Regions from separate parts of the Homo sapiens genome. Here region 2 is reported to be linked to region 1. Evidence: microRNA targets listed by miRTarBase, many of them from high-throughput screens and not tested one by one. Region 1 holds a microRNA gene; the other region holds the end of a gene's coding sequence.
The links. The annotated mature microRNA hsa-miR-3914 reads AAGGAACCAGAAAAUGAGAAGU and lies in region 1 at 2,314-2,335, opposite strand. An mRNA with a match to its seed (bases 2 to 7 or 8) in the 3' UTR can be bound and repressed. Matches are read on the target gene's strand: a 7mer-m8 pairs with bases 2 to 8, a 7mer-A1 pairs with bases 2 to 7 and ends in A, and an 8mer does both.

Region 2: miRTarBase lists TAMALIN as a target of hsa-miR-3914. Seed matches in the 3' UTR shown: 7mer-m8 at 296-302.

The regions. Positions count from the first base shown.
Region 1 is chr7:71,305,374-71,309,833 of GRCh38, forward strand. MIR3914-1 (microRNA 3914-1) reads right to left here and starts at 2,397; the gene lies at 2,299-2,397. The region is part of intron 1 of GALNT17 (polypeptide N-acetylgalactosaminyltransferase 17); the gene reads left to right. MIR3914-2 (microRNA 3914-2) reads left to right here and starts at 2,301; the gene lies at 2,301-2,395.
Region 2 is chr12:52,015,042-52,018,041 of GRCh38, forward strand. TAMALIN (trafficking regulator and scaffold protein tamalin) reads left to right here. Exons shown (of 8, transcript NM_181711.4): 8 at 1-848. The coding sequence ends at 158. LOC124902934 (a long non-coding RNA gene) reads left to right here and starts at 1,502. Exons shown (of 2, transcript XR_007063311.1): 1 at 1,502-1,750.

The sequences.
Region 1 (4,460 bases):
AAATCCAGCTGCAGGCTAAAGCACCAAAATTTTCTTGTTTTCAACTAACCCACGGCAAGGATAAATTTTTCTACCCCCTGGGATGGCAGATTCAGTCCCGGAAATTCAGAGTAGTGAAATTGTTAGCAGTTGTTCTTAAAATCTGGGCTCTCATTTCATGGCGATGTCTTTGGTCTTTGTGTTGAAAGCAGGACCTCTGTAAGCCCCTTCTCCTCCCCAGACTGTGAGTTTGGTGGGTGTTATGACAACGGTGAGGGGACGGGGGAGGGCCCCTCCAGGAAGTTGTCATCTCAGTCCAGTGCGGGGTCAGCAGTAAAGGACTTACTAGGTTGGCGACCTGATGTCACCCAGAGCCAGAGAAGTTTCCATATCTCAATGAACCTTTTGGATTCGAAGAGAGATAATTACTAACTCCACGGACTGGCCTTAGAAGACTCTTCCTCTGACATCATCCAATTCATTCTGCCACTTAAAAAAAGAAAAAAAATCCAGGTACCGTGGAAAGCCACTGGAAGCTTTAAGCAAGAGAGTGTCCTGATTTACAATTAAAAAATTTCTAATTAGGCCGGGCATGGTGGCCCACGCCTGTAATCCCAGCACTTTGGGAGGCTGAGGCAGGCGGATCACTTGAGGTCAGGGGCTCGAGACCAGCCTGGCCAACATGGCTAAACTCCATCTTTACTTAAAAATACTAAAATTAGGCGGGTGTGGTGGTGCGTGGCTGTAATCCCAGCTACTTGGGAGGCTGAGGCAGGAGAATCACTTGAACCTAGGCGGCAGAAATAGCAGTGAGCCAAGATCGCATCATTGCACTCCAGCATGGGTGACAGAGTGAGATTTGTCTCAAAATAAAATAAAATAAATTCTAATTTTGGTAAAACATACATAACATGAAATTTACCATCTTAACAATTTATATGTGCATATATCAGTAGCGTTAAGTATATACACATTTTTGGGCAACAGAACTGTTTTCATCATGCAGATCTGAAGCTCTGTACCCATTAAACAATAACTCCCCCTACCTGCTGTCAACGCCCCCCACTATTCTTCTTTCTCTGTCTCTAGAATTTGACTACTCTACATACCTCATTTAAGTGAAATCATACAGTAATTGTCCTTTTGTGACTGGTTTATTTCACTTAGAATATCGTCCTCAAAGTTCATTCAAGTTGTAGCATGTGTTAGGATTTCCTTCCTTTTGAAGGCTGAATAATAATCCATTGTATGTTTACATCTTAGGCTGGTGCAAAAATAATTGCTGTTTTTGCCATTGAAAGTAATGGCAAAAAACAGAAATTACTTTTGCACCAACTTAATGTATCCTCTTTTGTTTATTCATCTGTTGATGGGTACTTGGGTTGCTTCTACCTACTGACTATTGCAAATAGTGCTACTATGAGCATGAGTGTGCAAATATCTGTTCAAGTCCCTGTTTTCATTTCTGTTTTGTTTTGTTTTGTTTTTTGAGACAGAGTCTCGCTCTGTTGCCCAGGCTGGAGTGCAGTGGCACAGTCTCAGCTCACTGCAGCCTCTGCCTCCTGGGTTCATGCCATTCTCCTGCCTCAGCCTCCCGAGTACCTGGGATTACAGGTGCCCACCACCACACCTGGCTAATTTTTGTATTTTTAGTGGAGATGGGGTTTCACTATGTTGGGCAGGCTGGTCTTGAACTCCTGACCTCAAGTGATCTGCCCACCTTGGCCTCCCAAAGTGCTGGGATGACAAGCGTGAGCCACCACCCCTGGTCCCTGCTTTCATTTCTTTGGGGTTTATGCCCAGAAGTAAAATTCCTGGATCCTGTGGTAATTCTATGTTTAACTTTTTGCAGAACCGCCATACTGTTTTCCATAGGGGTTGCAGCATTTTGCATTCCCATCAGCCGTGCACAAGGTACCACTTTCTCCACATCCTCGCCAACACTTGTTATTTTGTTTTCTTGACAGTAGCCATTTTAATGGGTGTGAGGTGGTATCTCATTGTGGTTTATGTCACATTTTTGAGTATACGTTTTACCCTGCTGGGTATATGTTATTACACTAGGTGCTGGCTTACAGAGGCAATAAGACCCACTTTCTGCCATGAGAGAGGAAACTCACAATCTGTTGGAGGAGACGGGCATCTAAACGGAAAATTATAATACAGCTTATCAAGTGCTATGATAGAGACAGGTCTTAAGAGAGCAGAGAGTGGATGCAATCGAGGAAGACTTCCTGGTCTTCATAGCCCCACCTCTAGGAAGTCTTCCTTGGTTGCACCCACTCTGTGCTCCGTTAAGACCTGTCTCTGGAGTAGCAGTAGAGTTCCTACTCAACTTCTCATTTTCTGGTTCCTTCTACCAAGTTAAGCATACTCATTAGAAGGAACCAGAAAATGAGAAGTTAAATCTGAAGTCCAAGTGGTTGGTGAGTATTGGTTAGAGCACTATTTTTAGAATAGAACAATGCTTATGAGTGAAGCATTTTTTTTTTCTTTTCATTTGTGCATTTCTCTGGCTCTGGGAGATTGTAAAGGTTACTTCATTGGGATGCTTAGATCACAGTTTCTGGTTATTAGAAAGAGGCCACACTGAGACCTTTGGGAGAAAAGGGGCACAGCAGGTGGGTAGGTGGGACGTGCCTCATTGAGCCTGATTCAGGGGTCTTGTGTGTTTTCCATTTCATCCAATTCTGGGAAGTCTGAAGGCTCCGGGTCAGAGGGGAGTTTGTTGCATGGGGGCAGTTGTCTGGAAAGCTTAGTGACAAAGTAGCAAATAGGAGCAAGGAAACAAAGTATATAAAGACCTGCTATTTAGGAATGGCACTATTCTTGTCGTGGTGACTCACATTTGTCAAGCCTTGAAGGATATTTGCAGAGGAAGAAAGAAGCATTGGATTGCAGCTCGGTGGGAGCAGATCCTGGCTGCCAGTGCCGGGACCAAGGCAGGGTGTGATCTCACCCGTGTTGCCAAGGGTCATCCCACACCCAGACTGTTCGGTTTCCATTCTCATTCCTTGGCATTGCCTTTTATAGAACTGCTTTCAAAAGAGGCATTGGGGCTGATGTCACAGGATCACTATGTGTTTCTCAGGAGTAGGGAGGGAATGAATAGGATTTTTCGAACATTCTATACCAAATTCACTGCCCTCCCTCCATTTGATTTAGGACTTACATCTTCAGCATCCTCTCTTTGTTAGGCTCCTCTGGAATTGTCTGTCCCCCTGGCTAGATCAAGAGCCCCTCTGTATCCCCAGAACCTTGCAGCTTCAGGCACTTTGCACGAGATAAATAAACATGGATGCAATGAGAAAAGGGATGTGACAGGTATTGGGGAAGACAAGCCAGCAACTGCTCTGGGCTCTGCTTTGGAAGTGCCTTTCATTTCTCTTTAGTTTTTTTTTTTTTTTTTGAAACAGAGTCAAGCTCTGTTGCCCAGGCTGGAGTGCAGTGGCACGATCTCAGCTCACTGCAACCTCTGCCTTTTGGGTTCAACGGATTTCTTATGGCTCAGCCTCCCAAGTAGCTGCATTACAGGCAAGCACCATTACGCCTGGGTAATTTTTGTATGTTTAGTAGAGACGGGGTTTCACCATGTTGGCCATACTGGTCTCGAACTCCTGACCTCAGGTGATCTGCCCACCTCGGCCTCCCAAAGTGTTGGGATTACAGATGTGAGCCACTGCGCCCAGCTCATTTCTTTTTACTCTCTATCCACCACTTGTCCTAGCTCAAATCCTTTTGAGTCTGACTTGGACAGCTGATGTCACCCTCTACCTAGTCTTTTTTCCCTTCAGTGCCATTTTTCCAACTCTTGTCAGTCATTTTTATGCTGTCATTGCATCCAGACCTGATCATTTCTTTTCTCTTTCCTACTCAAAACCTTTCTTGGTTCACTGTGACTCAGTGAATAAATCCATGACCCTTGGCAGTCTAATTCCTGTTTGTCTTTCCAGCCTTGCCATCCTGCCCAGCTACCTGCCTCCCATCTCATTCCCTGCTAAATTTGCTTCTTCCTTATGTGAGTTGAGGCACACGCTTTCCCTTCTGCTGGGAAGGAGTTTCCACCCCTCTGAGACCACATCCAAATGTTATCTCCTTGAGGAAGCCATGCATGCTCCCTGCCGAGACCAAGGAGAGAAAACCATGCCTTCGTCTGGGTTCGCATAACTTTTGTCTACACTTTTGTCGTGTCATTTACTGCAAAAGTTGTCCCCCAAGCTATCCTTTTATTTACATTTGCTTATTAATTTCAAGAATTATTTGAGATAGTATTCAAGTTACATACTAGAGGAATATTCCTATGAATATAGGATATTATAATGATAATAAGAGTTATGTTAAGGAATTCCCATAATAAAGGGTGGAGGGAGAGTGGGGATGAATTTGGGGTCATGTAAATACAAACTGCATATGCTGTGATGTTTAGCGCATTTGCCAGAAATGTTTAGAATACTTATTTCTAAACTTGGACCTCTACTTTC
Region 2 (3,000 bases), not on the chromosome of region 1:
GCGGGGGCGCGCCGGGCGCGCTCTGGACTGAGGCTCGCGAGCAGGCCCTATGCGGCCCCGGCCTGCGCAAAACCAAGTACCGCAGCTTCCGCCGGCGGCTGCTCAAGTTCATCCCCGGACTCAACCGCTCCCTGGAGGAGGAGGAGAGCCAGCTGTAGGGGCGGGGGCGGGCAGGGAGGTATTTATTTATTTATTCGCAACAGCCAGCGCTAAAAGAGGGGGAGGCCGAGCCAAGAGGACCCCAGGAGCCCAGAGCAGCGGGAGAGGGTCCTTCCTAGCCTCGGCCCGCCGGGTCGGTTCCTGGCTGGTGTCTGCTGAGGGAGTGGGGGGCCCAGCCCCTTCTCTTCTCCCCCGCCAAACCACAGTGGGAGCTGGGGCAGGGGGAGAGCCAGGCAATCGGGGGCCAAAGATGGGGGTGCTCGCCTACAGTCTGCATCTGTAGTGCCTTGTGGGGTATCCAGGAACACCCTCCCAGCAGGGGATGGGAACCCTGTCCCATGAAGCCCTCTCCTCAGCTTTACTTGCTCCCCCGCCCTTAGCCTTGGGGAGAAATGGCCCGTGGTGGGCTGACCCCCCACCCTCCACACACACAGTTCCATGACCCAGCGGGCCCCCAGGGGCATCAGGTGCTGGTCCTCCTCCCTCCTGGCCTCGACCCCTAAGGGCTTCGCCCCTCCCAGGGGCCTGTAACTAAGTCGGGTCCTGCCAGGCAGGGGGCCTGTGTTCTGTGCCCCTTGGGAGACAGGAACTGGCGAGTTCAGGTGGGGTGGGGACAGCACAGACTGTTCCACCGTTGTGCATATTGTTGCTTCTGAACCACAAACTGTATAAATGGATGGTTTTTTGCATCTGTGTCAGTGTGGTGACTGCCTGAGGGGGAGGATTGGGCTGGGGCAAGCTCTGACTCCACCATCCCAACCCCCGCCCAACGCACACACATCTTGTTTTCTTGCAGCCTGAAGCCAGGGAAATAGGCTGGGAGATTTAAACTTACATGTATGGGCCTGAGCTGGAGGCCCCACGCTTCTTCACAACTTGAGCCTCCCTCCCCAGATACCCAAGCAGGTGGTGACCAAGGCTTGCCTCAAGTCCTTAGCCATCCCTGTAGAAATACGTGTGCTTGGCATGCCTTTCTTCCCAGCTTCTGAGGTCTCCCTTGAGGGGCACAAGCCAGATCTGTAGGGACCTGAGGCATTACCACCTGGCCTGTGAGGGGCCCAATCACGGCTCACTCTGTTGTTCTAGCAGTCTTCAGCGGTTTCCCACCCCAGGATGAGATTTTTCTTTTTTGAGATGGAGTCTCCCTCTGTTGCCCAGGCTGGAGTGCAGTGGCCCGATCTCAGTTCATTGTAACCTCTGTCTCCTGGATTCAAGTGATTCTCCCGCCTCAGCCTCCCGAGTAGCTGAGGTTACAGGCAGGCGCCACCACACCCAGCTAATTGTTGTATTTTTAGTAGAGACGGGGTTTCACCATGTTGGCCAGGCTGGTCTCGAACTCCTGACCTCAGGTGATCTGCCTGCCTTGGCCTCCCAAAATGCTGAGATTACATGCGTGAGCCACCGCGCCCGGCCTCCCAGGATGAGAGTCTGACCCCTGCCGGCCTCTGCTTCTTACTCCCCGCTCTGGCTGCGCTGCTGGCTGTACCTGGCACACTTCAGACCCCTTCTATCAGGGTCTGTGCTCTTACCCCTCCCACAGGTGGCTCCTTCAGTCCTCAGCCCTGCCTCCCGAAGACCTTCCCACCCAGTGGTAAATACAGTCATGCCCTCCCCTGTGACAGCCCTGTTTTATTCCCATCAGACTGTGCATCGCCATCCGAGACTGTCTTGACTTTTATGGGTTTATCTTTGCCTGCCCGCCCCACCCGGGAGGATGCACGCTTCTTGCACAGGGCTCAGGAGCCTTGTCTGTCTTCACTGCTTTTTTCTTGCCTGATGCTAGCACATGGTAGACCCTCAATACAGTGTGTGCCAACATGGTGTGTGCTCAAGCATCTCCAAGTGGTAGTCACGACCTCTTTGAAGTGACCTGTCGGGTCATACAGCAAGCTAGTGTCAGAGCTGGGCCTGGGACTTGAGGCCCCTGCTCCAGTGCTCCTCCCGGGGAGTAACCAGCATGCAAAGGGTGGCTTTGAGAGAGGTCTGAGCAGACCCTCCCTACCTGTCCTGCACCATGGTTCTTGCTTTTTGAGTGGGTCCCATTTCTGTTTCTGCTTTTGCTCCTTGAGCATCCCTTCTGCACACAGCAGTCAGCGTGATCTTTTCAAAAAGGAAACTGGATCACAACCCTCCTCTGCTTAAACCCATTATGCCTTTCCCTGGAATAAAAGAATAAGGTCCAAACTCTTTACCATGGCCTATCCATAACACGTCCCTCCGGGGAGACAAATAACAACACAGCTTCCCTTTCTCCAGGCTGACAGCAGCCACATAGGCCCAACAGTTTGGTAACTGGGAGCCTTTTGTGCAGTACCCAACCTCTGCAACTATATCCTGATGCCCTCCATGAATCCCTCTAGAATCTGGTCCCTGCCTCTCCCTCTGATCTCAAATTGTTTCTCCTTCTATGTCACTTGTTACATCTAAGCACACTATCCCTTCTGCTCCTATTCCTCAAATATGTCAAGCTCTCTCCTGCCTCTGGCCTTCACCCATGCTGTCTTCTCTGCCCGGAACACTCTTCTTTGCAAGAATGATTTCTCTATCCTCACACCTCAGCTGAAACATCACCTCCTCAGAGAGGTTTGCCTTATCAAATAGGAACAAGTTCGCTGACCCCATTATTTATTATTTATTTATTTTTTTGAGACAGAGTCTTGCTCTGTTGCCCAGGCTGGAGTGCAGTGGCACAATCTCGGCTCACTACAAGCTCCGCCTCCCAGGTTCATGCCATTCTCCTGCCTCAGTCTCCCGAGTAGCTGGGACTACAGGCGCCCGCCACTAGGCCCAGCTAATTTTTTTGTATTTTTAGTAGAGACGGGGTTTCACTGTGTTAGCCAG